7 linked regions of the Homo sapiens genome follow. The protein of the gene in region 1 purifies or fractionates together with the protein of each later gene. This does not show direct contact. Each region holds a gene or a part of one and is shown on either strand. Other genes may lie near its edges.

Evidence for each region.
Region 2: the proteins of AGO3 (region 1) and EIF4B purify together in Homo sapiens (affinity purification with mass spectrometry; one study listed by BioGRID and IntAct). This does not show direct contact.
Region 3: the proteins of AGO3 (region 1) and SPIN1 purify together in Homo sapiens (affinity purification with mass spectrometry; one study listed by BioGRID and IntAct). This does not show direct contact.
Region 4: the proteins of AGO3 (region 1) and STK38 purify together in Homo sapiens (affinity purification with mass spectrometry; one study listed by BioGRID and IntAct). This does not show direct contact.
Region 5: the proteins of AGO3 (region 1) and LONRF3 purify together in Homo sapiens (affinity purification with mass spectrometry; 3 studies listed by BioGRID and IntAct, with this or other methods). This does not show direct contact.
Region 6: the proteins of AGO3 (region 1) and LIMD1 purify together in Homo sapiens (co-immunoprecipitation; one large-scale study listed by IntAct). This does not show direct contact.
Region 7: the proteins of AGO3 (region 1) and EIF3L purify together in Homo sapiens (affinity purification with mass spectrometry; one study listed by BioGRID and IntAct). This does not show direct contact.

Annotation. Positions count from the first base shown.
Region 1 is NC_000001.11:36,007,605-36,011,104, reverse strand, and holds part of AGO3 (protein argonaute-3), read right to left. Parts: intron 2,416-3,500; coding exon 2,328-2,415; intron 2,209-2,327; coding exon 2,061-2,208; intron 1,727-2,060; exon of another isoform or gene 1,631-1,726; coding exon 1,511-1,630; exon of another isoform or gene 1,234-1,510; intron 1-1,233.
Region 2 is NC_000012.12:53,019,956-53,023,455, reverse strand, and holds part of EIF4B (eukaryotic translation initiation factor 4B), read right to left. Parts: coding exon 3,430-3,500; intron 1,651-3,429; coding exon 1,596-1,650; intron 964-1,595; coding exon 829-963; intron 1-828. UniProt on the Homo sapiens protein: Required for the binding of mRNA to ribosomes. Functions in close association with EIF4-F and EIF4-A. Binds near the 5'-terminal cap of mRNA in presence of EIF-4F and ATP.
Region 3 is NC_000009.12:88,471,944-88,475,443, reverse strand, and holds part of SPIN1 (spindlin-1), read right to left. Parts: intron 367-3,500; coding exon 167-366; 3' UTR 1-166. UniProt on the Homo sapiens protein: Chromatin reader that specifically recognizes and binds histone H3 both trimethylated at 'Lys-4' and 'Lys-9' (H3K4me3K9me3) and is involved in piRNA-mediated retrotransposon silencing during spermatogenesis.
Region 4 is NC_000006.12:36,540,980-36,544,479, forward strand, and holds part of STK38 (serine/threonine-protein kinase 38), read right to left. Parts: exon of another isoform or gene 790-3,500; intron 1-789. UniProt on the Homo sapiens protein: Serine/threonine-protein kinase that acts as a negative regulator of MAP3K1/2 signaling. Converts MAP3K2 from its phosphorylated form to its non-phosphorylated form and inhibits autophosphorylation of MAP3K2.
Region 5 is NC_000023.11:119,012,618-119,015,736, reverse strand, and holds part of LONRF3 (LON peptidase N-terminal domain and RING finger protein 3), read right to left. Parts: intron 2,858-3,119; coding exon of another isoform or gene 2,836-2,857; exon of another isoform or gene 2,699-2,835; coding exon 2,536-2,698; intron 1,531-2,535; coding exon 1,381-1,530; intron 1-1,380.
Region 6 is NC_000003.12:45,681,751-45,684,295, forward strand, and holds part of LIMD1 (LIM domain-containing protein 1), read left to right. Parts: 3' UTR 1-2,545. UniProt on the Homo sapiens protein: Adapter or scaffold protein which participates in the assembly of numerous protein complexes and is involved in several cellular processes such as cell fate determination, cytoskeletal organization, repression of gene transcription, cell-cell adhesion, cell differentiation, proliferation and migration.
Region 7 is NC_000022.11:37,852,419-37,855,918, reverse strand, and holds part of EIF3L (eukaryotic translation initiation factor 3 subunit L), read right to left. Parts: intron 355-3,500; coding exon 275-354; intron 1-274. UniProt on the Homo sapiens protein: Component of the eukaryotic translation initiation factor 3 (eIF-3) complex, which is required for several steps in the initiation of protein synthesis.

The sequences.
Region 1 (3,500 bases):
CTTGAGTTTTGCCTTACTCTATGAGTTTTATAAAGCGGTATTGGTAACGCCTTCCTTCCCCTCATTTAGAACAATGAGACAGCACAGAGACCTTACGTGGTTAAAGCTATCTTCTATTTCCTTTCTTTCTTTTCTTTCTCTCTCTTTTTCTCTTTCTTTCCCTCCCTCCCTCCCTCTCTCTCTCTCTTTTTTTTTTTTTTGACAGAGTTTCGCTCTTGTTGCCCAGGCTGGAGTGCAATGGCACAATCCCGACTCACCGCAACCTGCGCCTCCCGGGTTCAAGCGATTCTCCTGCCTCAGCCTCCTGAGTAGCTGGGATTATAGGCATGCGCCACTATGCCTGGCTAATTTTGTATTTTTAGTAGACACGGAGTTTCTCTATGTTGGTAGGCTGGTCTTGAACTCCCAACCTCAGGTGATCCGCCCCCCTCGGCCTCCGAAAGTGCTGGGATTACAGGCATGAGCCACCGCACCCGACCTTCTTTTTCTTTTTTTTTTTTTTTGAGACAGAGTCTCACTCTGTTGTCCAGGCTGGAGTGCAGTGGTGTGATCGGCTCACTGCAGCCTCTGCCTCCCAGGTTCAAGTTATTCTCATGCCTCAGCCACCTGACTAGCTGGGATTACAGACACATGCCACCATGCCCCACTGATTTTTGCGTTTTTAGTAGAGATGGCATTTTGCCATGTTTCCCAGGCTGGTCCCAAATTCCTGGCCTCAAGTGATCCACCCGCCTTGGCCTCCCAAACTGCTGGGAATACAGATGTGAGCCACTGAGCCCAGCCATTTCTTTATTCAGACTGTACAGCTGCCACTGTGATACTGGGGACTAAGCAATCTTAGACTGAGTGTTAAGAATTTTAGTATTGGCCGGGTGCGGTGGCTCACGCCTGTAATCCTAGCACTTTGGGAGGCCGAGGCGGGCGGATCACAAAGTCAGGAGATGGAGACCATCCTGGCTAACATGGTAAAATCCTGTCTCTACTAAAAATACAAAAAAATTAGCCAGGCGTGGTGGCATGCGCCTGTAGTCCCAGCTGCTGGGGAGGCTGAAGCAGGAGAATGGTGTGAACCTGGGAGGCAGAGCTTGCAGTGAGCCAAGATCGTGCCACTGCACTCCAGCCTGGGTGACAAAGCAAGACTCCGTCTCAAAAAAAAAAAAAAAAAAAAAAAAGAATTTTAGTATTGCTAGTCATAATTCTTTGACTTTTCCTCCTATTTCCCACCTCTTTTAGGTGGAGGTTCCAGTTTACTAAATGGAAACATTTCTTCTGAGAGGATCTGTTCCCTGGATCTACTTAAAAAGCTCAGGGTTAAATGAGAAGGACCTAACCCTTCTCATATAGCCCACCAAGGCTTGTATCAAGAACATTAGATTACTTCCATGATTGCTTTTAATTCTGACAGTCCATGAAATGGTCATAAGGTATGGGTTGATAAGGACATGGTTCTCTAGTATTACAGTTCACCCTAATATGTTTTAAATTCTCATTTCTAAGGTTAAGTACTAACCAATCTGCTAATTTCCTCTTGTCTATCTGGTGCAGATCTTGCTGTTGCCTTGATCATAGTGGAAGTCTGATTGTCTGTTAGCTTCTTGATACATCGTTGCCCTGCCACAATATTACAGACCTACAAATGGAAAAAAGTTTTGTACTACATGTATATATCTTTTTTTTTTAGCTCTTACTTAGTGCCAATTACATGTAAATAAAAATTTAAAATCAACTTCATTAAACCACTTATTTTCAATATGTTAAGTAAAAAAGTAGTAAACAAGACAGCTCTACAGTAATTAAGTATAATTAAGTAAAATGTACACCAGATGAAGACTGAAAGAAGTATAGTATACCAAAATGTTAACAGTGGTTACATTAGAGTGGTAGGATTATGGATGAACTTGTTTCGTGTTATTTCATTACAGAAAATTTAGAATAAATTAAAACTTAAAAACAGTTCATATTCCAAAATAAATGTTCTGTATGAGGTAAGTTATCGGCCATAAAAGACCCCAAAAGAATCATGAACAACAGGGTATTAATTAGCAGTGTGAAGGCATTACTTCTAGTGGCAGGTAGGTGTGTTTCTGTTCCTGCCCGACTTGCAGACAGGGAAGGTGCGGGTACTTCAGCTGAAGAGTATACTTTTCTCTGAAATACTGCGCTACTGTTCTCTCCACAGTTTGGCCGTTTTCTAACTGTAAAGGAAAGCTGAGGAAAAAAAAGTACACATGAACAATTCTTGCCCATTATGAGCCAGAAAAACTCCCAACCCCACTAACTAGAGCAAGCTGCCTCACACCATCGCTGCTCTGACAAACTTTTCTTACGTTTGATGACTGGCAGGCCTCCTTGTTACATTACAAACACGGTATTTCCGTCTCATTGTTCCACAATGAGTCACTTCAACCTTCAAACCTGTTCCCAACAAGAAAAATGGAGGTTACAGAACTGTCACATGTAAAATATTTATACTTATAAAGCCTGTTCATTACCATAAAAACTCAATTCTGAACAGACAAAAAATTCTGTGATACAGGCAAGATGATATAAACACCAGATTTTACATATAACATTGCTAATAATGGTCACAGTCATGACAGACCTAATGGCAAAATTTTTCCTTACCCCATCAAGCTCTACACATTAAAAAATAAAATCATAAAATTTGCAAAGCCCATAGATCAAGGGCCAAAATCTTCCATTAATAAAAAATCCTGTTTATAATAAATTCAGGTATTTATGCTGGGAGAGGGAAGGAGGAATGAAAGAGGAGATCCAATAATTCTCAAGGTATTCCATAATTTCAAATTATGTGATATTTACCTAGCCCAGTCATCACATACTGCTTGAAGATCAGAATTTTGTAAAGCTCAAGAAAGAAGTCCTTTAAAGATTTATAAAGCAGGAGAAAAAAATTCCAGGCATTTTTAACAGAAGCAAAGTGACACTTTTATAGAGGTATAATATAGTGACACAGCTCTTTTCCAATACTATTAAAAATCAAATGTAACCAAAATAATTCCTAAAGTAGGTGATCCCTACCCTCTTATGGAGTCAAGATCCCTTTGAGAATCTGATGTAAGCAATAAACTCTCAGCAAAATGCACATATACATAATTTAGCACATGATTTTAGGAGTTCTTGGATCCCTGCCGTCCATCTGTGGACTCTAGGGGTTCAAGGATCCCAGGCCTGCTCTAGAATGTGAAGAAATGGGCTTTAAGCTGTTGGCTGAAGTTCTTCGAGATGAATTTTCTGAAGCAGTGCTGTCAAAGAGAATTTTCTTGAGGTGATGGAATGTTCTACATTTATGCTAATATGGTAATCACTAATAACATGTTACTAAGCATAAGAAATGTAGCTGGTGTACCTAAGAAACTGAAAATTTAATTTTATTTAGGTTTTTTTTTTTTAGTTTTTTGCTCTTGTTGCCCAGGTCAGAGTGCAATGATGCAATCTTGGCTCACTGCAACCTCTGTCTCCAGGGTTAATGTGATTCT
Region 2 (3,500 bases), on another chromosome or scaffold:
ATCAAGACTATCCTGGCCAACATGGTGAAACCCCATCTCTACTAAAAATACAAAAATTAGCTGGGTGTGGTGGCGCGCGCCTGTAGTCCCAGCTACTTGGGAGGCTGAGGCAGGAGAATCACTTGAATCCAGGAGGTGGAGGTTGCAGTGAGCCAAGGTCACGCCACTGCACTCCAGCCTGGGCGACACAGCGAGACTCCGTCTCAAAAATATATATATATATCAAAAAGTAATGCAACTGATCTTTGTATGCTGCTCTTCACTCAGCAATCATGCTGAACTCTTATTTCAAATAGCTCACTTTGTAGAATCTGTTGGATTTTTTTTTTTGAGACAGGGTCTCGCTCTGTCACCCAGTCTAGACCTCCTGGGCTCAAGGAGTCCTCTTGCCTCAGCTTGCTGAACAGCTAGGACTGCAGGTGCGTACCACCACGTCAGCTTTTTCTTTTTCTTTTTGGTAGACAGGGTCTTGTTTTGTCGCCCAGGCTGCTCTCAAACTCCTGGCCTTAAGCAATCCACCTGCCTTGACCTCCCAAAGCGTTGGGATTATAGCCACCATGCCCAGTTTGGGTTTCTTTATAAACAATTGTCTCCAAAAAAAGAGAAATGTCTGTCCCTTTGTTTGGTTAAGTTTTCAAAAAAAATTATTAATTTATCAAATTCGTTTCCTGCATCTATCAGTTCTTTCAGATACTATCCAAAATTTTTCTTAATCTGCTTTCCTCCTTCTATCTGTTAATGTGATCTGATCATCTGTAACACATTTGTCCTATTACTAAATAGCCTCCCAAAGCACAGAGGAAGCTAACTTCATAAAAACAAACTTACTGTCTCCAAAGCTATCATCACCTCTTCTAGGTGGGTAGTCATCAAAGCTGTCTGTAGCAGGACGAGCCCTCCAGTCTGTATCTGTTTTGTCAGAATCCCGATTTCTATCACGGCCAAAAGAACGATCATCCCTGTCTACAGATACATTAAAACAAAAACCGTAAGTTATCTCATAAAAACTTTGCCCAATATTTCTCACACATAGAAAACCCCCATTTTACCCTATTTTTCACTTTCACGTCACACTGTCATCCCAGTTACCTCAGGCCCCATAAGTACATGCTCCAATTCAACCCCAGGTGGCTCTTTTCCTCCCGTTTTTTCCTATTGGTTTAATGCTTAGCTATCTCAAATTCTGTATGGGCCAGGAGTCCCTGAAACATATACAAATTAGGTCCCCTTTGTGACCAACGTGCTGTTAGGCAGCTAATCTATTTATCATCTATTTAATGTTCATCTAGATCAATCAGTCTTCTCAATCTTGACATGCATTTTGGGCTGCATAATTCTTTGTTGATGGGGACTGTCCTATTCCCTATAGAATTAACCCCTGGATTCTACTTATGTCAGCAGCACTCCCTCCAATTGTGACAACTACAATGTCTTCAAACATTGCCAGAAGTCCCCTGTGGGGCAAAACTGATTGAAAACTGTTACTGTAGATTCAGGCAGGCCCACCACTACCCCTATTCAAATTTTCTGGGAAAGGATGGCTTGGTGTCATCCTGGGACCATTACCAAACAGAAATCTCTACCAGTTTCCTTACCTTTATCCTGTGCTTGATCAGCAACGTCCACTCGAATTCTCCTGTTACCTAGAGACTGAGAGCATAGGACCATATTAACCAACCTTTTGCCCCATTATGCACAAATCCCTTGAGTGACCTTGAACGTCTGGGCATAGCAGAAGCACTAGGGGAAGGAAGATAAAGGAAAACACTGTAATCTAGCTAACACTCCAATTTGTGGGCTAAAGAGTCCTTTAAAAGACTTAAAAGTTAAACAAATTTAAGCTGGCCTTGAATATTAGGTCAATTATACTATTTTTACAAAGCTTAATTTCACAGAATAGAATTAACTTTTTAACTATCCAAGGTAATTTGTCAAGTGTAGTAAATTAAAAATAATTCTCACATAACTAGCTGAATAAAAGGCATATTTGGTGCCACAACAATTATTTATCAAAATTTATAGAAGCCAGGTGCAGTGGCATGTACCTACAGTCTCAGCTATTTGGGAGGCTGAGGCTGGAGGATCACTTAAGCCCAGGAGTTCAAATCCAGCCTGGGCAATATAGCGAGACACTGTCTCTTAAAAACAAAAACACCCAACACATTTATAGAGCCTCTACTACTACTATGTACCAGCAAAATTGCATAAAGCATGCTTTGTCTACAATCTTAGGTTCTTTCACTCAGTATTACCTTCAGATAAATCAGTTCTTCCAGAGATACCCTCTGACTTCCCTTTCCCACATCATTATTTATATACTTTGAACCCAATTAATTCTATTGCTGATTTTTCCTCATTTCATAGTAGAATCTACAGTTGAAGGATAACAATGATTTTTAGTTAAAAATACCCAAAACTATATTAAACACCACTATAATGAAATCTCTAGTAACAAAGTAACTCTTAACTATGGACCACAACAATATATTAATAGTTAATCTAGTAAACATCAAATAGTTAACAATTGCATGGTATTCTTTTTCTTATCCAGACTGAGTAAAGTTAGAGACCAGTAATGTTAATAAAAATCTAAAAATAATCCAGTAAGAGTAACTCTGGAACAAGATTAGACCTTCATATGCATTTAACTAAGTACATTAATTTTTATCTCTATTTCACACTGACTACAGGTTATCATGATGGTAATCAATTATGAGGCAGCAAAACTATTTCTAAGAGGTGTTGATTTCAATCATGTCATATGGCAAAATAGGACTACAGAAATATGGCACAAATGGCACTAGAAATTGCCTTATCAATAAACAATAAGGTGTTTTTGGAGTTAAAGGAGGAAAAAAGTCTTTTTTCTTCTGAGATATAAGCCCCTCAAGTCCTGGGACAGGAAAACCTTTGTGGGCAGTGTTGACAAGCAGAAGGACTAGATATTTATTGTCACTCTCCTGTAAAATATTCCTTTGTAGGAAATGTTTCCAAATCCTCTTAAATGAACAAATATACCATTACAACACTTCCCTGAAAATGAGATATGCCTTTAATACTAAACAAACTTGATTTTTCTATTTGCCTTTATCAGGCCAGATTACTTTGAAAAAGCAATGCCATAAGAGTTGAGGCAACACTGTGGGTAAATCAGTGTAAGACTTAATTAGAGACCTGGTGTGTGGTGGGTTTCTTCCACAACTTTCCACCTAAGTACCTATCTAAATTATTGGGGCCTACTGAATTTGCTGAAGTGTGACTTGCTAGATGTTCGATGTTAAGTGATACACTGTTAAATAATGCAGGCCTTTATTTGTAGATATGGGAATCTTTGAAGTGAGCCTCTCAACCTAAAAAATACCAGTTTGATCAATAAACATGAGATTTGTGAACTTACACCCCTCATATCCCCACTCTTATTTTCTTTACCTCTTCATTGAGACTCAGGGCACTGAGCAGGGAATCCAGGTCCTCAAATTCAGCATAACCAAAACCTTTCA
Region 3 (3,500 bases), on another chromosome or scaffold:
GTTCACATCAATCTGTACTATTCAGAACAAAACCAGTTCTGCTGGCAGAGATTGTGGGTTCGCAGGGACATTTAAGCTTTCATTAAACTGGAAAGCAATCAAGTCTTTATGTCTACAAATAATACATTTCATAGTTCCACAAATTTGGCAGAGTTTGTGATGACATCTAGGATGTTTTCACCAAATCGTAGACATAAATATGGAAATCATCATCAAACTTGATGAAATAGACGGAGGGCTTGGCTTCTACTTGATGAATGACCATGCCAGTCCTTTTCGAGCCATCTTCTTTGGCATATTCCACTTGTTTGCCTACCAGGCTGTCCACAACTTCTCCTGGTTCCCTTTCTGCTGGAGGTGAATCATCTATATTAAAAAAAAAAAAAAAAAAAAAAAGAGAGAGAGAGAAAATTTCTAAGTCAATTTTTAGATATAAATCAACTCACATATTTATTTTCATAACTTAAAAAAAATTTTAATAGCCTGAATTCATGATTATCTAGACCAGGAGTCAGCAAACGTTTTCGTAAAAGACAAGACAGTAAATATTTCAGGCTTAGGGTCATATGGTCTCTGTCCCAACTGCTGAACTCTGCCACTGTAGCACAAAAGCAGCCACTGATGATATGTATATAAACAGATGTGGCTGTGTTCCAATAATAAAACTTTTTTTCATAGTTTGCCGACCTCCATCTAGATATATGAACAATTTTGAAAATCATAACCAAAAATTTCTTTGGCCCATGTTTAATCTGTAGCTGCACTTAAATGAAAATAAGTTTGAGTGGCTTTGAAATATAATTTGAAAGCAGACAATTCCTACAGGGATTACTGAGAATATGGCACACATTTAAAATGCCTAAGTACCATTGGTTTTACTCTGTGAATCCTTAAAGCTTCTTCCCCCTCAACTTCACTGCATTTCACATCATCTTCCTAACTCAGTTCCAAAATTTAAGCTTTCCATGCTTTAAAAATTGGTGCTGAATGAACTTCAGCCCAGGACAACTACAAGGGAATCTCTGAGGATGGCACAGGCATCTGTACTGTTTAAAAGGTCCCCAAGATTAATGTACTGCCTCTAGCCTCTAAGAAAACACACAGAAACAGCAAACCATCACCACCAACAACAAAAAAACAAAGTAAAAGAAAAAAAAGAGAGGGGGTTTGCTAGGCAATTATAATTCTATTTTAAGAAACTCTGCATGGGTTCTGAAAAACTCGAAGCTCTTTTCCTCGTAGTAGCAGGTGGCCTTCAGGTAGGGCAACCAGAGGATCCAGCTACATAAGACAGTCCATGTTATCCTGGCACAATTGGTAGTAATGTCATTTTACTCTCACAGGTATCCTGGTGTAGACCATATAATGTACATGTATTAATAGTAGTCTGCCTCTTCGGTTACAATAAATTCTCTCACTGAATGACAATCCAAAAACTGCTACTGTGATCTCTGGTACTAAGAGTCACAAGAAATAAAAATAAAACATCTGAGCATAATCAATTCTTTTAAAAGAAATAAAGAAATATAAGCTGAACTCTTTTCTTTAAAAATTCTCTTCCCTTAAGCAGTATCATCATACTGCCATATTTTTGTGGCACGTTTACAAAAGAATTACAAATACACAATCGCACGTGAATTTTATAGTAACTCAGCTAACCAAGGGAGTCATGTAGAGGCCTGTTTTACCATCAGAGCGGGTACGCGACCAGGACCCTTTCAGAAATCATTAGATCAGAGCATCACCACTGTTTCTAAAGGTAATAAGCTTCCATAGCGCGTGCACACACACACACACACAAGTTTGGAGAATTAAAGGAGAGGGAAGATCAAAAAATGGCTAGGAAAAGCGATGCAGAATTGCAGACGCCCTTGCATTTCCTATGATTAGGTTAACAGGACTTGCTCTATTTATCTATAAAAAAATGTTCAAGTCACCTCATACAGGTTGGAGAAATGCTTTTTAAAGAAATGTTCTCATGACAAATTCCTGAGTATGTAAGTTGCATTACCCCTTTATAACAAATGTACACAATTTTTTTTTTCTTTTTGAGACGGAGTCTTGCTCTTCTCGCCCAGGCTGGAGTGCAGTGGTGCAATCTCGACTCGCTGCAACTTCTGCCTCCCGGGTTCAAGTGATTCTTCTGCTTCAGCCTCCCGAGTAGCTGGGACTACAGGCGCCCTCCACCACACTTGGCTAATTTTTTTATTTTTAGTAGAGACGGGGTTTCACCATATTGACCAGGCTGACCTCGAACTCCTGACCTCAGGTGATCCGCCCGCCTCGGCCTCCCAAAGTGCTGGGATTACAGGCGTGAGCCACCATGCCCAGCCCAAAAATTTTAAAAATATGTATTGAAGAAGTAGAAATTCAAGGCCAGATGAGGAAATTAGTATGTTAACTAACTTATTCATAGGAAGAATTTTTTTAAAAAAAGAAATAAAGATGACTGACGCATGGCTAATGTATGGAGAGGGCCTACCAGTTACATCTGTCCAAGGCCAGAGATTCATGTGTTTGAAGAAAGGCCACTGAGTAGTTTTTAAAGGAACAAGCTTATCCAAAAGTGAAATTAAGAAAACAATTCAATTCATATGCACAATGGCATCAAAAAGAATAAAATCCTTAGAAGTAAATTTAATAAAAGAAATGTGGAGCCGGACGCAGTGGCTCACGCCTTTAATCCCAGCACTTTGCGAGGCCAAGGTGAGAGACACAAGGTCAGGAGATCGAGACCATCCTGGCCAACACAGTGAAACTCTGTCTCTACTAAAAATACAAAAATTAGATGGGCGTGGTGGCGTGTGCCTGTAATCCCAGCTACTCGGGAGGCTGAGGTAGACGAATTGCCTGAACCTGGGAGTTGGAGGTTGTAGTGAGCCAAGATCGTGCCACTGCTCACCAGCCTGGCAACAGAGCAAGACTCCATCTCAAAAAATAAATAAATAAAAAGTGGCCAGGCGCGGCGGCTCACCTGAGGTCAGGAGATCGAGACCAGCCTGGTCAACATGGTGAAACGCCATCTCTACTAAAATACAAAAATGAGCTAGGCGAGGTGGCATGTGCCTGTAACCCCAGCTACCCGGGAGGCTGAGGCAGGAGAATCGCTGGAACCTGAGAGGCAGAGGCTGCAGTGAGCTGAGATCAAGCCATGGATTAGAAGACTTATAAAGTCTTGTTAACATTGTTAAGAGGGCAATACTCTTCAAAACTGATCTACAAATTCAACATAGTCCCTGTCAGAATCCCAGGTGACTTCTTTGTTCTGACAAGTTGATTCTAAAATTTATATGAAATTGCAAGGGACCCAGAATAGTCAAAACACTCCTGAAAAAGAAAGGAGGGGCCGGGGTGCAGTGGCTTACACCTGTAATCCCAGCACTTTGGAAGACTGAGGTGGGCAGATCACTTCACCCCAGGAGTTTGAGACCAGCCTGGCCAATATGGCAAAACCCCATCTCTACTAAAAATACGAAAGTTAGCCCAATGTGGTGGCGTAT
Region 4 (3,500 bases), on another chromosome or scaffold:
CCTACACCTCCCAGGTTCACGCCATTCTCCTGCCTCAGCCTCCCAAGCAGCTGGGACTACAGGCGCCCACCAATACACCGGGCTAATTTTTTGTATTTTTAGTAGAGACGGGATTTCACCATGTTAACCAGGATGGTCTCAAAACTCCTGACCTCATGATCCGCCCATCTCAGCCTCCCAAAGTGCTGAGGATAACAGGCGTGAGCCACCGTGCCCAGCCCACAAATATATCTTTAAAACATATTAGTGCAAGTGCATATTGCATTTTTAAAAAGAGAACAAGATCACAATACCATATAGATAAATTAAGAATATATAGTAAACCACACGCCTGTAATCCTGGCTTCCTGGGAGGCCAAGACAGAGGTCTGCTTGAGTCCCCAAGTTTAAGACTAGCCTGGACAACATAGTGAGACCTAAAAAAAAATATACAGTATGCATACAGTACAATTCTTTGCCATCTAAAAATCTACCTTGAAGAAATCAAAGACCCATAAAAATTCATCACAAGGAGGTGCAATGCAGCATTGTAATCACAAAGGGAAATTAGGGATAACTTGAATATACACAATAGAATTAATTCAGTATGAAAAAGCCCTTCAATAAAATAATGTGCAGACAATTAAAATATGTCCAAATAGTTAATGTCAGAGGAAATGTTTCCACTCTAAGTCAACAGAACACATTACAAAGCAGAATGTATATCACGATCTCAATTTTCTTTATGTGTTTACTGTATATGCACATAATTATTAGAAACATATCATCAAAATGTTATTAGTGGCTTACCTGTAGGTAGTGGGAATAGAAAATGTTATTCTTGCTTGTGCTTTTTCCATGTTTTTCTTTTTCTTTTTTTTTTTTTTTGAGATGGAGTCTCACTCTGTCGCCCATGCTGGAGTACAATGATTCAATCTCAGCTCACTGGAACCTCTGCCTCCCAGGTTCAAGCGATTCTCGTGTCTCAGCCTCCCAAGTAGTTAAGATGACAGGCACCAGCCACTGTGCCCAGCTAATTTTTTTTTTTGTATTTTCAGTAGAGACGGGGTTTCACCACACTGGTCAGGCTGGTCTCAAACTCTTGACCTCAAGTGATCCACCCAACTTGGCCTCCCAAAGTGCTGGGATTGCAGGCATGAGCCACTGCACCCAGCCCATGTTTTTCTATATTTTCTTCCATAAGCATATACTGTTACCAATAACTTTTTAAGTTTATCCACAGTTAAAAGAAAAATCTATGATTAAAAATGGTAATCTGATACATATATGCTCTGACACAGCCTTAAGGTATTTGATAAATGTTTGCCGTTTATTTGAATTTACAAGTTAAAATAAAGTTTTAAGTCTTAAAATAAAGGGAACAATATGACAAAAAACCTGAATCACGATTCTAGTGGTAGAAGCAGCAATACCTTAAAAACAAGAGATCTTAATTTCCTCATTTTACACAAGAAAAAAACACCACCAATGTGTTTAGATAAGTTATAGAATATTTTTTTCCTAAATTTAAAATATTGTTTTCAACCAGGAGTGTGGCACACACCAGTAGTCCTAGCTACTCCAAAGGCTGAGGCAGAATTGCTTGAATTGGGAAGCAGAGGTTGCAGTGAGCCGAGATAGCGCCACTGCACTCCAGACTGGGCTACACAGCGAGACTCAGTCTCAAAAATAAATAATAAAATCGGCTGAGCGCGGTGGCTCACGCCTGTAATCCCAGCACTTTGGGAGGCCAAGGCAGGCGAATCATCTGAGGTCAGGAGTTGGGAGACTAGCCTGACCAACAGAGTGAAACCCCGTCTCTACTAAAAACACAAAAATTAGCTGTGCGTGGTGGCAGGCGCCTATAATCCCAGCTACTCGGGAGGCTGAGACAGGAGAATCGCTTGAACCCGGGAGGCAGAGGTTGCAGTGAGCCGAGATCATGCCACTGCACTCCACCTGGGTGACAGAGCAAGATTCCGTCTCAAAAAAAATAAATAAATAAAATAAAATCTTGTTTTCCTCCAGATATTTCAGCTAACCTGTATTATCACACTTGGCCAAATTGTTCACTAACATTGACTTGCTCCAGCATTGGCAATAGCGCTCAATTTTTTTTTTTTTGAGACGAAGTCTCGCTCTGTCGCCCAGGCTGGAGTGCAGTGGCGCGATCTCGGCTCACTCCAAGCTCCGCCTCCCAGGTTCGTGCCATTCTCCTGCCTCAGCCTCCCGAGTAGCTGGGACTACAGGCACCCGCCACCACGCCCGGCTAATTTTTTCTATTTTTTAGTAGAGACAGGGTTTCACCGTGTTAGCCAGGATGGTCTCGATCTCCTGACCTCATGATCTGCCCATCTCAGCCTCCCAAAGTGCTGGGATTACAGGCGTGAGCCACCATGCCCGGCCAATAGTGCTCAATATTTTATTCTTACCATTCCTACCTCTCATATGATCTACTTCTCTGTCTCTTCATCCCAATATAAAGCTGAGTAAAAATTAGGAGAGGCTGAACACTGTGGTTCATGCCTGTAATCCCATCACTTTGGGAGGGTGAGGTAGAGAGATCATTTGAGCCCAGGAGTTCATGAGTCCAGGAATTCAAGACCAGCCTGGGTAACATAGCAAGACCCTGTCTCTACTACCCCCCACAGCTGCAGCAAAAAAGAATCATGAGAGTCAAAGGGCCATTTTTCTTTTTTTGGAAATGGAGTCTCACTCTGTCGCCCAGGCTGGAGTGCAATGGCACAATCTCGGTGCACTGCAACCTCCGCCTCCTGGGTTCAAGCGATTCTCCTGCCTCAGCCTCCCAAGTAGTTGGGACTACAGGGACATGCCATCACCCCCAGCTAGTTTTTAGTAGAGACGGGGTTTCACTATGTTGGCCAGGCTAGTCTTGAACTCCTGACCTCAGATGATCTGACTGCCTGGGCCTCCCAAAGTGCTGGGATTAGAGGCATAAGCCACCGCACCCAGCCAAGGACCATTTTCAAAGATAGTGCATTTTAAGAAAAGTTTTCAGGTTTTCCCCCTTAATATTTAGTAGCTTTTTAAATTGTTTTGTGGATTAAACTAAGGCTTATAAAACACTTGTTCAAAAAAGCCTTAAAATTATTTAAAAAGCAATTATTTAAAAAGATACGCAGACAAAAATCACATAAATAATTCCTTCAGAGCAGAGATTCAAAACTAAGACTCTACTTGAGAGTCAAACATTTTGATTCATCATGTGCCAAAAAGATCAGTAAAAACAAATTTAAGACACTGCATTAAGAGCTACCTTACTATAAAATATCACATTATTTTTTATGGGGAAGTTTCGACTAATACCAAAGCAAACTCAAATGTTTTAGAGTATCACTAAAGGAATTAAAAAAAACAAAAACAACAAAAAAAAAACCTCTGTTTGGTTTGTGAAGCTTGGGTGTGGTTCCTTATTTGTCAGCCTGTACCCCCCCCTCCACCCACAATGAAAACCACATGCACTCTAAGTGTGTTTGGTGAAGAAATTTAAAAACCAGATG
Region 5 (3,119 bases), on another chromosome or scaffold:
GATTTCAACTTTCTCTGTCATTAGCCTTTATGAATCACACTGTAGCATCTGTGTTTTCCCGTTACCATTGCTGATCTGTATCTTTTGCCTAAGGGAGAACGCTTCCCGGAAGGTGAAGGGGAACATTAAGCTTGATCGTGAGTTTGCTCAGAGGTATATGCTGCAGTCCTGACTCATCGTGGCCCAGAGCCAGGAGCTGGGTCACAGGAAGCACTAACTGGCCTTTCTCCCTTGAAAACTCATGATGCCTTTGCATGGGGGGGGAAAGAAGCCACCTTTGTGGTCTGAGGAAAGCAAGACATTTCATTTAGGGAACAGACTGGTGTCTTAGAACCTCAGAATGCAAGAGGAAGAGGGGGCTTTAGAACCCTCCTCATGTCAGAGATGGGACAAAAGTTGAGAAAGGGAAAGGAATCTTCCCAAGGTCATACTGCTAGTGAGGTAAGCAGGACCAGACTTTTGGTCAGAATATGCATATTGAGATTTTTTCTTTTGTGACAGAGTTGGGGATGAGCATAAGTAAAGAATCAATGTAGGAGAGCCAGCTTGGAGCATAGGAAGAGATGGTCGTGAGGAAATATGTGGTTAGGATATCTCCAGCCTTATCCTAGAAAGACAGTATTCCCTGATTTATTCCAGGCAAGCAAAGCTTAGTGAAACTTAACCATCTCCACTCTCCTAGGGAGCTTCTGATCTGCAGCTTGATCTTTCAAATAGGCCTATCCCCCAGGAAGAACACTGATCAGTAGAACCTAACAAACTACTGTCTAGTATAACTCAACTAACAGTATTTAATGATGAACAGAGCTGTTCAGCCCTGGTGAGGACAATAGCAAGGGTCTAGACTTGCAGGGCGAAGCATAGATAGACCGAGGCACGAAAAGTTTTTGTGGTCTTGCAGTTGTAATCTTATAAGGGTAGCTGGCCCTATCCCCTAGTTCCCAAAGCAATGAGGGAGAGGGTTATGAAGTTACCTGAAAGCAGCAGCTTTTGGTCTCAGCTCCCAGGATACCCTTCTCTTAAGTCCTGGCCTTTGCATGTAACTTGTCACCCTAACACTACCATGGTGTGAATCTGGACTCCCATGGAAGGTTCTTCTGTTGGTGATATCTATGTTCCCATTCTCTTATCTTACTTAGTTCTCAAAACCTGCCTTGGATCCAAGTTCCTACTGCTTTACTTTAGTTACCCCGATTCTAACTTGGGATCTTTTTGGTCTTACTCATGACGCTCACTGTGCAGCCAAACAACACCAAATTAAATCCATCTTCCTCTCTGCATTCGATGTGCTGAATGGCAGCCACATACCCATCTAATCACAAACACTAGGCACTCTCTTCTAGTGGGACAACCCGTTTAAAAATAGACATTTTTCTATACCTGAGGATCGGCGTCTTTCTCCGGCATGGGACCAAAGTGATTGAGTATCCGATTCTTTAGGGATAATTTGAGCGAATGAAACCACAATGATGCTTGCTGATAGACACAGTTATGTAATCCCATGAGCTCAGCACAATCCTCTCCCTGAACCTGAAAGTATCAAAGTGGAAGTGAAACATTCTGTACCCTCTCCATCATTCCCAGAGTCACTTTTGACACCTGATTCGCTTTGAGCATCCATCCTGCCTTCCTATGGGAAGGCTCACCCATTCAGCTTTCTCCTTTGCTTGATGTGAAATGCCCCTTAGTCAAGTGCTGGACAGTGTGTAGATACTGCTGACCATGGAGGAAGGAGAAAGGTTCAGCTGGGTAGATTAGCTGAAACAGCAAAACATGCAGAAAACCAGAGATTCAAACCGGCCTGAGTGGAGGCATGTGGTTAAACCAGGTTATGCTGGTCCATGCCTTTGCCCTTTTCATTTTTACATCTGTTTTCTCATTACTTGCTGGAAAAGACACAGGAGTATGTCAGTCTCAGCATGTAACTATCTTGGTCAAACACATTTACTCAGTCATCAGATATTTATTAATCTACTATGTAACAAATGTAAATATAAATGAATATAGGATTATTTACCTCTTCTTCCACCCATTACCTCAGAAAACCAAGGATTAACTAGATGTGTCATCTTTCTGCCTTAGGGGATGATGGATTATTGGGAAGGGCTCTTAGCCAGGTTACGTACTTTAAAATACAAATGCATGTGTGGATCTATAATTGTCTCAAAAGAAAAAAGTTTAAAATATACATAAATCGATAGATAAAATATATATGTATAGACCCACCCCAGATCCATTCCTTGCAATCTTTGGCAGAGACTTAACTCCCAAGCTGAATGAGCCCCAGGGTTGATCTAGGATAACATTTCCTATGCATGAATGCAACTCAGCAGCTAAGCAGAGCCAGGACAGTAGGCGCCCTCACTGCCATAGTGCAACTGGACAGCAATCCAGCAGCATTCAATGTTGCTGCAGCAATTTGGTGTGAAATCCCAAGGCCCTCAAGGGTTCTGAGAAATCCTTTCACAACTATCTTTGTGTATCAAGTTACAAGGATAGCCTGGCTTTGGGATTCTTGGCACTGGCCACCCTTACCTTTTGGTCTTCAATGTATTCAATGTCGGCTGTGTTGTAGCCATCCCGCTGGCTCTGATGGAGCACCCTGAAGCGCCTCTTGCCTATGCTGTCAACCACTGAGCGGCCATCAGCAAAGAATTGAACATTTCTGATCTCTAGGATGCAGCCATATTCTGCAAACCTGTTTATTGAGAATGGAGTCGAGAGACTAGATCCTTGATGAGTTCTGTTTCCCTGGGCTGGCACCCAGCCATTTCTGTAGCCCCATGCTGTGGCTCAAGGGACTTCTGCCTATTTTCCTGTCCCTGGGTTACAGCTTCAATTACACAACAGGCAGTGCCTGTGTGAAGAAAAAAAATTCGTAATGTATTCGTGTAACTGCTACCATTTATTGAGCACATACTATGTGCTGTGCCAGTGCTATGGTTTGAATGTTTGCCTCCTCTACAACCCATTTTGAAATTTAATTGCTATTGTAACATTATTAAGAGGTGGGACATTTAAGAGGTGATTAGGCCTCCACCCTCATGAATGCATTAATGCTGATATGGTGAAAGTAGAGTAGGGTTGTTATTAATATAAAAGGGCAAGTTTGACCCCCT
Region 6 (2,545 bases), on another chromosome or scaffold:
TGGTGTCTATTCTTACCAGATGTATAAAAATGTGAGAGGCCTTGGAGAATCATATCCCAAGAATCAGCAGTTTCTTTTACTGGACCTTTAAGATTGAGACTTGTAAGGTCCTGATGCAGTGACTTGTAAGGTCACTTTGTCTCTCTTGTGAATGTTACTGTTTTTTCTCTTCTGAGGTTATGACCAAAGAATCCTCAAGGCGAGTGATCCTTCAGGTTTGAGACAGCCACATGCAGGAAGACAGGACTTGTAGAGTGTTGGGGCCAAGTGTGTGGTTAGAATCCTTGGGGTGGGGAAAGAGTTTGTTCTAGACTCCAGTGTAGTCCTTGTGGCTACCAGGTCTGACGTGCCAAGGACACGGGAAAGCTGGGAGTGAGGATACTCATAGTCATAGCACCTTACACCAGAATAAAAGTTTTTTTTTTCTTTTTAAGTGATGAGAGAATGGCTAGTCTGATTTTGCCAACATGGGCTGCTATTTGCTTAAGACCTTGATGGTATAAGGAGTGAAGATGCAATCAGGGTAAAAGGCGGTCTGGAGTTGTGGTGTGCTGGCAAACCAGCCCTCTGGGGCAAAAAATTAAAAAGCCTTGATATGGAGTGTTTGCTGATACCTATGATGTAAATATTCCCGCCATGGCCACTTTCCAGCTACCAGCAAGGCATCCTGGCACCAGGGATTGGGAGGAGATGGCATAGTCCTAAGAGTCAGCCTTGGGCATTGGGCCATGTGGGACTGGGCAGTGGGGTATCTGGTCTGGTTCTAAGTGCTGTGATGAAGCAGTAGCAGCTGTAATAGCTGGCATTTCCCGTGTGCTCATCACATAGCAGATGTTATTCCAAGGACTGTATGTTCTTTATCATCCCTCATTTGATAGACAAGACAACTGAGACACAAAAGGGTGAAATAAACAGTAAGTACTCCATCCCAGGCCATCTCATCCAGAGGGTGCTGTCTTGACCACTCTACTACTCTGGTTGATGGGAGGCAGTAAATTGTCCATCAGTATACTTCTTCATCAAAGCTACATAGTCAAAAAGCCACAGGAGGCTGTGAGGAGAAGCTCACTGCTGCTCTGTTGAAGTCTGTATTGGTTTCCTATGGCCACTCTTAACAAATTACCACAACCTCAGTGGCTTAAAACAACACAAATATATCATTCTGTCATCCTGGACACGAGCCAAAGGTTGTCGGCAGAAGCGAATTGCTTCCAGAGGTGCTATAGGGTGCTGCCCATTCCTTGCCCCTTTTCCGCTTCTAGAGGCTGCCCATTTTCCTTGGCTTGTGGCTGCATCATTCTGGCTGCTTCTATTGTCACACCTCCTCTCTGACCCTCCCTGCCTCCTTGTAAGGACACTTGGGATTACGCCCATCCAGATAATCTAGAATAATCTCCCATTTTGTGATTCTTAATAACATCTGCAAAGCCTCTTTTACCTTGCAGAATAAGATATTCACAGGTTCTGGTGAGGAGGACAGGGACATCTCTGAAGGGGAGGGAAGCAGGAGATAGGGTCTGGAGGCATGGAATTGGCTTCCTAAGGCCAATTCAGGCTGACTTCCTAGAACTAAGTCAAAAGGAAAACCCCAACTTTCCACGCTCAAGTAACAAAAGGACCAGAGGCTACTCCCTTTGCAACCTCCCCACCCCCAGCCCCTTTTCTGCATGGCAGGTGAAAAATTGAAAGTATCGCTAATTGATCCCCTCCCACAACCAATCAGACTGGTCTTAGGCCAAGTCTTCATTTGCCTAGGAGTATAACTTTGTAACTTCAGCCTCTGATTGGGCGTTTTACACAACCAGTCAGATGTTTGTATAGGGTGGTGTAACTTTGTAACTTTGCTTCAGCCTCTGATTGGTCCCCTCCCACAACCAATCAAACTGATCATGGACCTCTGCTTCATTTACATAGGGTGTACACCAAGTAACCAATGGGAAACCTCTAGAGGGTATTTAAATCCCAGAAAATTCTGTAACCGGGTTCTTGAGCTGCTTGGGCTGCTCCCACCCTGTGGAGCGTACTTTCGTTTTTCAATAAATCTCTTTTGTTGCTTCATTCTTTACTTGCTTTGTGCGTTTTGTCCATTTCTTTATCAAGACGCCAAGAACCTGGACACCCTCCACCGGTAACAGGAGGAGCATTAGTCAGCCTACCACAGACTCCAACGAACGTTTTTTGAGAGGAAATGAAAGAATATTCCTAAGTTATTGGGTGCCTTTTCTTCAGGAATCCCTGAAAGTGGGGGTTTGCAATTTTCCCTGGATTGAAAACAGAAATGCTTCCTACACAAACATGATTGAGACCTTGTACTCTAGGTGTAAAAAAACAGAGTAGGTCATACTCTGTGGGTTATGGTCAGAGAGATCTGGTTAGAAGTTCCCAGGTAGGCGACAGCCCTAGATGTGTGACACTTCTAGGAGAATCTCTGGCTATGTGGATACGTCCAGGTGTGTAAGGCAGCCTCAGGGACTGCCACCACTTGGTCACATACATGTCCCTCCAACTAATCCTAGCTCTCAAGGACAGGTGGTTCTGGGCCCTG
Region 7 (3,500 bases), on another chromosome or scaffold:
TTATTCCAGAGTGACTGTAATGACCCCCAAATTATAGAAGGAAATAGAAACAAGTCAGTACAAAGATCTAAATTTCACCATATATGAGAGATCTCTGTCCTCTCTTAAATCATCCAGCCTTCGACAAGTTATTTTGCCAAGGACCTACTACATACCAAGCACCAAGGAAACAAAATGGTGAGCAAAACAGACACAGACCCTCTTGAGCTTCCTGTCTAATGACTCAGCCACTGGATTCCACTCAGTGCACAAGATATAAAGAGCTCACACCTACCATTGCCAACCTGTGGAGCAATGGCTTCAGCCTCGGGCCAAGGTGTATTCTTGAAGAATCTTTCAGTCAGCTTGGTCCAGCTAAAAATCAAGAAAAAAATCTCTAAAATTCCAAAAGGACTGGAGAATGCCAATCCTAACATTTTACAGATGAGGACCCAGGCTTAGAAAGGGGAAGATGTCAAATAAACAGAGCTGAGGCCAAAGCCCTTCAAGCCCACAACTGTCCTCAACCCAACTCCACACTTCAATCTTTCTCAACACAAGAAAATATTGTTTTTGTATCAGTTAGGGACCCATCAAGCTTTTCAGGATAATCTCCTGCCTCTGTATCATTAACTATAGCCATATTTAACTGCTTGCTGTTTTCTGCTATAAGAACTACTTTTTTGGCCACCATTCTTTAACACAGCGTTTCCATCTCCTGGAGCACATCCAAACGTCTCTAAACACAGAAGCAAATCAGTCTGCTGCAGTCCAAGGCCACAACAGACCTACAGCATCCAATTTAAACACTGCTGCCTATCCAATCCAAACACTGCTACTTGACAAACCTGCAACAGGTTGTTTAATTTTCTTCTCCTGATGCCCTCAGCAGCTATTAATACTTTCCTCCAATCTCCTCAAGCCCCACCCCTCCTGCTTCTCTGGCTCTTTTAGTCCAACATATAAACATGCTCAAGTTCCCCTAAAAAACACTGAACAGGCCAGGCATGATGGCTCACGCCTGTAATCTCAACACTTTGGGAGGACAAGATAGGGGTATCGCTTGAACCCAGGAATTCAAGACAAGCCTGGACAATATAGGAAGGCCCTGTCTCTACGGGATGGGGGTTGGGGAGAAACACAGAAACAGAACAGAAAAGAAACACTGAAACAGGCCAGGCGCGCTGGCTCACACCCGTAATCTCAACACTTTGGGAGGCTGAGGCGGGTGGATCACTTGAGGTTAGGAGTTCCAGACCAGCCTGACCAACACGGTGAAACCCCGTCTCCACTAAAAATACAAAATTAGCCAGGCATGGTGGTGCACACCTATAATCCCAACTACTTGGGAAGCTGAGGCAGGAGAATCGCTTGGAGCCAGGAGGCGGAGGTTGCGATGAGCTGAGATTGCGCCATTGCACTCTAGCCTGGGCAACAAGAGCGAAATCCTGTCTCAAAAAACAAAAAACAAAAACAGAAAAAACACAGAAACAAAACACAAAGCCACTCAGTGACCCTTTATGTCCCCGATACTTACCAATTCCCCTTTCTCACCCCACTGCTCTCTGGCTGTTGCTTCCATCACTCTACTGACATTGACCTTGCTAAGGTTATCAAGGCCCTCCAAGTTACCAAATTCAACTGGCTTTTTTTCTCATCTGGACCTCACTAAAACATTTGGTGATACTCTCTTCCTCAGTTTCTTCTGCAGACTTTTTGGTTCCTGTGACATTTCTTTGCCAATTTACTATCTACTTTTCACTTTTCTTTCTGCCTCCTTTACTAGATCCTTTCTTTGCCTGCCCACCCATCCCTAAAGAAACATACTTCTTAAGGCACCAGCATTTCTTCTCACATTCTCCTAGAGAAAGACTTACAAGATGCTTGGCTTCAACTGTCATCTGTATCTGCGGGCACTGCCCAATGCAATAGCCACTAGCTACATGTGGCTACTATATAAGCAAAGAGTTAAATTTTAAATTTCAGTTAGTTGCCATTTAAGTTTAAAAACCAACACTTAACTCAGTATTGGAAAACTTTTAGGTCTATTTGGAATTACTCTACTATTTGAAGATTCAAATTTCAAATTTGAATTACTTTTCCAGTCATAAACTCTATAAAATCTAAACACAAAGCAAGTATTTCTGATACACACTGGATTTAGGAAACTTTAAGTATAAAGAAAAAAAAGGGCAAATATCCCCTTAATTTTTAAATACTGATTACATATAGAAATAATATTTTAAATAAATCTCCACTTCGCTTGGCTGAAAAATTAAAATTAATGTCTAGCTACATTTCTATTGAACATCAGGTCCATTTTTTAATTTTGAGAGAGGGTCTCGCTCCATTGTGCAGCTCACTGCAGCCTCAACCTCCCAGGCTCAAGTGATCCTCCCACCTCAGCCTCCCAACTAGCTGGGACTATAGGCATGCTGCCACCATGCCCCAGCTAATTTTTGTAGGCGCTGATTTATATACTTCTAATCAGAAAAGACCCGGGGAATAAAGAAAACACAGTTCAGCACACTTGCCTTTCAGGTCACCCACCTGGCCCTCTTCCAACTGTCCTTTCCTTTCTTTCATTCCTGTTCTAAAGCTTTTTAATAAACTTTCACTCCTGCTCTCAAACTTGCCTCCCTCTCTTCTTCTGCCTTGTGCCCCTCAGTCGAATTCTTTCTTGTTAGGAGTCAAGAACTGAGGATGCTGTCGACCCGTACAGATACAGACTCATCATCAGTAGCATTTTAGCCCTCAGTGTAATTCTTTCTTGTGAGGAGGCAAGAACTGAGGCTGCTGTAGACCTGTACAGATACGGACTCATCATCGGTAGCATTTTACCCCTCAGTCGAATTCTTTCTTTTGAGGAGGCAAGAACTGAGGCTGCTGGAGACCTGTACAGATACGGATTCATCATTGGTAGCATGTTTTGGTGTTGTGTCACTTCAACACCCTTCAGCTGCTAACCTCTTTTGGTGCCGCATGACTTGGATCCATTTGCTAGTGGTGAAAGACCTCGATGCTGCACCTTCTTCGGCTGGAGGTGTTCAACCTCCGAACAAGGTTTTCTCCCTTTCTCTCTCCTCACTAACTAACCCCCAGATCAATTCTTCTTGGTCATAAGTGACTCTGTTCCCATTGGCTGATCTCTCAGCTCAACCTAATGGGTGGCTTGCAGGGGCGGGAAGGACCTTGGAGTCCACACCAAGTAGAACTTAGGCTCACGAGAGTGGCAGGGGTGAGGCCTAAAACCATGCAATGTCTGAGGTTTCCTCTGCTTTTCAACTACAATCAGCTCTTTCAAAACAACAAAAAAAGAAAACACATGTCAGAGATCCTATTCATTGATCAATAGGCCTTTGGCTATTTGTTTTCTCTCCCTCATCCTTCTGACTTGCTTAAATTCTATTTCCTTGGTGAAGTCACTCCTGACTATCCCAGCTTTGACTGACCTATCTTATCTCTAACGCTCATTACACAACGGCAGCCCCTCAAAACCTGCGGAGTTCAGCTTGCTCTGA